2 separate regions of the Homo sapiens genome follow, and region 2 is linked to region 1. The links come from fine-mapping of genetic effects on gene expression. A gene starts in region 1. The other region holds a variant in brackets. All regions are shown on one strand. Distances are from middle to middle.

Region 1 (2,907 bases):
CGGGGTTTCGCCATGTTGACCAGGCTGGTCTCGAATTCCTGACCTCAAGTGATTCGCCCACCTTGGCCTCCCAAAGTGTTGGGATTACAGGTGTGAGCCACCGCACCCGGCCCTATCCACACATTTTTGCATCTATTCCTTTTATATTTATTTACTTGCCAGTCTACAGTAAGGATTATATTTTCCTTCTCTTCCTTATTTATTCATTTATTTATTATTGGTATGGATTCTGGATTTCTGTTTTATCCAGTGGGTTATAATCTGTAACTATCATTATTGTATTGTTCAAATAATTCCAGATTTGGCCACTGGGAGCCCTTTCAAGCTAGCTCATGTGTGAGTGGGAATCTATCTAGAAGATAGAATTTCCTGATGGATTGGGTGGGTTGTGTGTGAGAGAAAGCTGGGGTTTATTCTTTTTTTTAGAGACAGTGTCTCACTCTGTCACCCAAGCTGGAGTGCAGTTGCACAATTACAGCTCACTGCAGCCTCCATCTCCTGGGCTCAACTAATCCTTCTCCCTCAGCCTCCTGAGTAGCCCAGCTAATGTAAAATATATATATATATTTTTAGAAATGGGGTCTCGCTATATTGCCCAGGCTGGTCTCAAACTCCCAGCTTCAAAGTGATCCTCCTGCCTTGGCCTCCCAAAGGGCTGGGATTACAGGCATGAGCCACCATGCCTGGCCAGGTTCATCTTTTGGCAAATATTTATTGCCTATAAGTTGAGATAAAAACATTATAAAAGCAGACAAAGGTCCTTGCCTTCACGGGGCTCATGTTTTTGTGCATGTGACACTTTTGTTTCTGATCCAAGCCATTGGGGGACGATGGCACAGATTTTAGGAGGGTGGATCAGTCTGGGGCAGGTGCAGTGGAGCTGCCTGGTAGACCAGCCTCTGCTTCCACTCCTCCCTCCTCCATTAGCCCCATGCTTACCATGTAATGACTTCCTGCTCTTTTTCTTCACTCAACAGCCAAGACAATGCAAACTCCAGTGAACATTCCCGTGCCTGTGCTCCGGCTGCCCCGGGGCCCTGATGGCTTCAGCCGTGGCTTTGCCCCTGATGGACGCAGAGCCCCCTTGAGGCCAGAGGTTCCTGAAATCCAGGAGTGTCCCATAGCTCAAGAATCCCTGGAATCCCAGGAGCAGCGGGCACGAGCCGCCCTTCGGGAGCGTTACCTCCGCAGCCTGCTGGCCATGGTGGGTCATCAGGTGAGCTTCACGTTGCACGAGGGTGTGCGTGTGGCCGCCCACTTTGGAGCCACCGACCTGGATGTGGCCAACTTCTACGTGTCACAGCTGCAGACTCCCATAGGTGTGCAAGCAGAGGCGCTGCTCCGATGTAGTGACATTATTTCATATACCTTCAAGCCATAAAGATATTGTGTTCACTTTTCTGCTTGAGGCTAAGGCACTGTATCCCAGGCCTCCCAATGTTCCCGAGCCAGGAACTCTGGGCCCCATGGAGTTATGAGCTCCCTTGGAATTTTGAGCCAAGCTTTAAGCAAGTCTGGACTCCTGAGACCTCCTGGGTCTAGTCAGTAAAATTCTGCAACTCTAGGAATTCTAAGATCCCATTGGAAGGAATGCTCTACCTCACAGAACTCTGAACCCTACAGAAATATGGGCCTGCTGCCATTTCCTGAAGACCGGGGCATCGGGGTGGGGTGATAAAGGATACAACCTGCACAGGGGGAAGTTATTAAAGAGGCTGCAAAGTCCAGCCACCCTGAAGATACTCCCCAGTGCTCCCCTCCTGCTAAAGAACCAGTTACCCCAGGAAAATTCGACTCCTGTTTTTCTTTAATTAACTATACCGACGGGGATGGAGTCATCTTTAGGGGCTGGTAGGGTGGTTATCCAAGGGCTGAATCCAGTGGAGCTGGGCCAAGTACGACAGGAGTCCAGATAAAGGTGTAGGGGCTGCACGGCCGCAAGTCTCCTGGAAAGGCTGGAGTGACCGGCATGCCGGGATTGGGAGATTAGGATTTGATTTCATTTTGGGGCGGGCGGTGGCTCGTGCTGGGTCACGTGGTCGTGCCCAAGCGCTCCTCCTGTTGCCCCACCTGTGGTTGCTGTGGACTGCACACGACAGCAGATTCGCTGTCCCCTCGTTGGAGGCGAATGGTCGGACCCCGAGTGGCGGCGCCCCTGATAAAAGGCCGAGGATTCGCGATCAGGGTGCAACTTCACTCCCTCCTCTTTTCTCTCCAGCCTTGCAGCGTGGCCGTTCACATCACGCGCTTCACTAAGCCTCCTATCACTAGTAACCTTTCAGCGCATTGTTTAAAAAGAAAGCAGTTTCTGTCCCTTTCTGTAGTTCCTTTAAGTTCAGGATGTAAGCGAAGCCTTCCATTAAGTAAAGGTGAGTGTCGTTTCGTCTCAGTCGCGAAAGTGCGGCGGCCGATGATGAACCGCGCCAGGAGCAGCCTCAGCGGCCATCAGTCCATTCGCAGCGCCGGCTCCGCCGAGGCCCGGACTTAGCTCTCGAGTTGCCTTGGCGACGACGCAGCTCGCTCCGCCCCAGTTCCCTTTTATGGTTTCAGCCCCGCCTCCTCTAGTTAGCCGGGTGCGCTTCGGCAAGCGTGGCGAAAGTGCGGCGGCGAATGTCAAGCGTTGGGTCTGAGCCTAGGGGTGTGGCTTGAGCTCACGCTGGTTCTTTCTTGCCTCGGTGATCCACCAGCCTTGTCACCCAGGATTTAGGTTGGCAGATTCGTCTCTCGCCTTTGGAATTTCTACCTTCTCCTAGGTTTTGTTTTTTAAAATCAGGCCTATGATACCGCTCATGGGCTCATATTTATTTTAGCATTGTAATTTAAGTTGTATTTTATGCAACTCTACCCCGATACAGAGAGCTGTTGATGTAACTGCAGCGAGCAAATGGAGGACTAGAGACTAGCGAA
Region 2 (2,907 bases), 510 kb after region 1:
GGGCGGGCACCGAGACGGCGCGGGAGACTGAGGCAGCCCCCGAGGGGGCGGGGAGGAGCGGTCTCGCCACGAGCAGGGCAACCTAGTGAGACCCCGCAGCATCGCGGGCAGCCGGGGAGGACCCGGCACTTACCTGCGCGCGGCGACTGGACGGGGCGGGCGGCGGCACCTCTCTCCGCTGCGTCCAGGTCCCCGGTCTTGACAACGGCGCGGGGACCCAGCGGATGCCCCCGCGGGGCAGAACAGCGGCTACTCCTCCCGGCCCCCGGGCCAGAGCCGCCAGCCGAGGCCCCGCCCCGGCCAGGCCCGCCCCCATTAACCCCACCTTTGCCGCTGCCCCTTAACCCCTTTCAGGCTTCACCCCATTAAACGCCTCCAGCCACGGGTGAGGCTCATCTGCTACTGGAACACCCCCGAATCCTTCCAAGTCCCCAGCTGGAAGGTCCCCTCTCTCCAACCACACACCCCCAAATTTATCAGGTCCTCGGCTATGGGAAGAGGAGGCCCCCGCTACTGACCTTCCCTGGGTTAAGCCATTTCCTCCCTTAGAGACCCCAGGCTTCAGTCATTCATCCTCTGGTCATTAACCTTCTGCATCTTCCTCCCCAACAACGGAGAGAATAAAGGGTTCTGTTAGGTCCCCAACTCCAAAGTCAGGGCCACCCCTAGAAGGAGCTCTGGGGTTGCATTTCCAGCCTGACTCTTGGTCAGACCTTAGGCTAGTGACATCTCCGTGCCTCAGTTTCCTCTTTGAATCAAGGTGGTCACTCATGGTGCCTGCTTGCTTCCTTCTTTTCTTTGCTTTGCTTTGCTTTGCTTTTTTCTTTCTTTTCTTTCGAGACAGAGTCATGCTCTGTTGCCCAGACTGGAGTGCAGTGGCACAATCTTGGCTCACTGCAATCTCTGCCTTCCAGGTTCAAGCGATTCTCCTGCCTCAGCCTCCCGAGTAGCTGGGATTACAGGCACACACCACCACGCCCGGCTAATTTTTGTATTTTTAATAGAGACGGGGTTTCACCAAGTTGGCCAGGCTGGTCTCGAACTCCTAAGCTCCAGCTATCTGCCCACCTCGGCCTCCAAAAAGTGTTGGGATTACAGGCGTGAGCCACCGTGCCCCACCTTTTTTCTTTTTTTGAGACAGGTTTTCACTCTCTTGCCCAGTCTGGAGTTCAGTGGCA[C/T]GATCATGGCTCCCTGCGGCCTCAACCTTCCAGGCTCAAGTGATCCTCCCACCTCAGCCTCCTGAGTTGCTGGGACTACAGGCGTGTGCCACCACACCTGGCCAATTTAAAAAATTTTTTTTTTCTATAGACAGGGGTCTCACTATGTTGTCTAGGCTGGTCTCAAACTCCTGGGCTCAAGCCATCCTTCTGCTTTGGCCTCCCAAAGTGCTGGGATTATAAGCCTGAGCCACCGAGGCCGGCCATCATGGTCCTTTTCTCCTGGCGGTCTCATTTAATGGTGTCAATGCTATCAAGTCTGTAAAATATGCCAACCAGACCCCAACACTCCCCATCTTTCTCTGCCTCACTTTTCCCCTACCCTTTGGGGAAGGCAACATTCTCTTATTTTTTTCTAGTTGTCTGCCTTCCTACTAGGAAGAGTGTCATTTTTGTGTCTGGCTTGTTTACTGTTGCATGTCTGTTGCCTAGAAGACTGCTGGGCAGGTGATAGGTGTGAAACACATTGTTTTCTGGCCGAGCGTGGTGGCTCACGCCTGTAATCCCAGCACTTTGGGAGGCTGAGGCAGGCGGATCACGAGGTCAGGAGATGGAGACCATCCTGGCTAACACAGTGAAACCCCATCTCTACTAAAAATACAAAAAAATTAGCCAGATGTGATGGTGGGCGCCTGTTGTCCCAGCTAATCAGGAGGCTGAGGCAGGAGAACGGCATGAACCCGGGAGGCGGAGCTTGCAGTGAGCCAAGACCGCGCCACTGCACTCCAGCCTGGGTGACAGAGCAAGACTCCATCTCAAAACAAAAAACAAAAAACATTGTTTTCAGGGAGTGAACAAATGAATGATAAGTGCTCCTAAAACATTAGCTTATTTTTATTATTAACATCACATCTTTCATAAACTAATCATGAGAATTCATTATTGGTCAAGGGACTTCAGATAGATGTGGCATATAACACTAAAAAATGATAGCTGTCAGGTTTGATTTTTTTTTTTTTTTTTGAGACAGAGTCTTGCTGTGCCCAGGCTGGAGTGCAGGGACATGATCTCAGCTCAATACAACCTCCTCCTGCCGGGTACAAGCAATTCTCCTGTCTCAGCCTCTGGTAGCTGGGTATACAGGCATGCACCACCACACCCAGCTAATTTTTTTGTTTTTAGTAGAGACAGGGTTTCACCATGTTGGCCAGGCTGGTCTCGAACTCCTGACCTCAGGTCATCTGCCTGCCACGGCCTCCCAAAGTGCTGGGATTACAGGCATGAGCCACGGCACCTGGCTTGTTTTTTGTTTTTTTGAGACAGAGTCTTGCTCTGTCCCCCAGGCTGGAGTGCCATTGTGCCATCTCAGTTAACTGCAACCTCCACCTCCCAGGTTCAAGTGATTATCCTGCCTCAGCCTCCCGAGTAGCTGGGACTACAGGTGAACACCACCACACCCGGCTACTTTTTGTGTTTTTAGTAGAGACAGGTTTTCACCATGTTGGCCAGGCTGGTCTCGAACTCCTGACCTCAGGTGATCAGCCTGCCTAGGTCTCCCAAAGTGCTGGGATTATAGGCATCAGCCATCGCGCCCAGCTCTTTTGTGTTTATTTTTAAATTAAATTAAAATGTAGGCCAGGCATGGTGGTTCATGCCTGTAATCCCATCACTTTAGGAGGCCAAGGCAGGTTGATCAATTGAAGCCAGGAGTTTGAGATCAACCTGGGCAACATAGCAAGACTCTGTCTCT

What was found.
Region 2: its variant is fine-mapped to the expression of GEMIN7-AS1 in sigmoid colon (GTEx, PIP above 0.99).

Annotation. Positions count from the first base shown.
Region 1 is chr19:45,089,130-45,092,036 of GRCh38, forward strand. GEMIN7-AS1 (GEMIN7 antisense RNA 1) reads right to left here and starts at 1,262. Exons shown (of 2, transcript NR_134887.1): 1 at 940-1,262. It overlaps GEMIN7 (gem nuclear organelle associated protein 7), which reads left to right. Exons shown (of 3, transcript NM_024707.3): 3 at 978-2,389. The coding sequence starts at 986. The coding sequence ends at 1,381. RefSeq lists silencers at 547-720, 2,421-2,605 and enhancers at 662-1,657, 1,658-2,652, 2,263-2,312.
Region 2 is chr19:45,601,962-45,604,868 of GRCh38, forward strand. GPR4 (G protein-coupled receptor 4) reads right to left here and starts at 251. Exons shown (of 2, transcript NM_005282.3): 1 at 134-251. The variant C/T (reference allele first, on the strand shown) is at 1,179.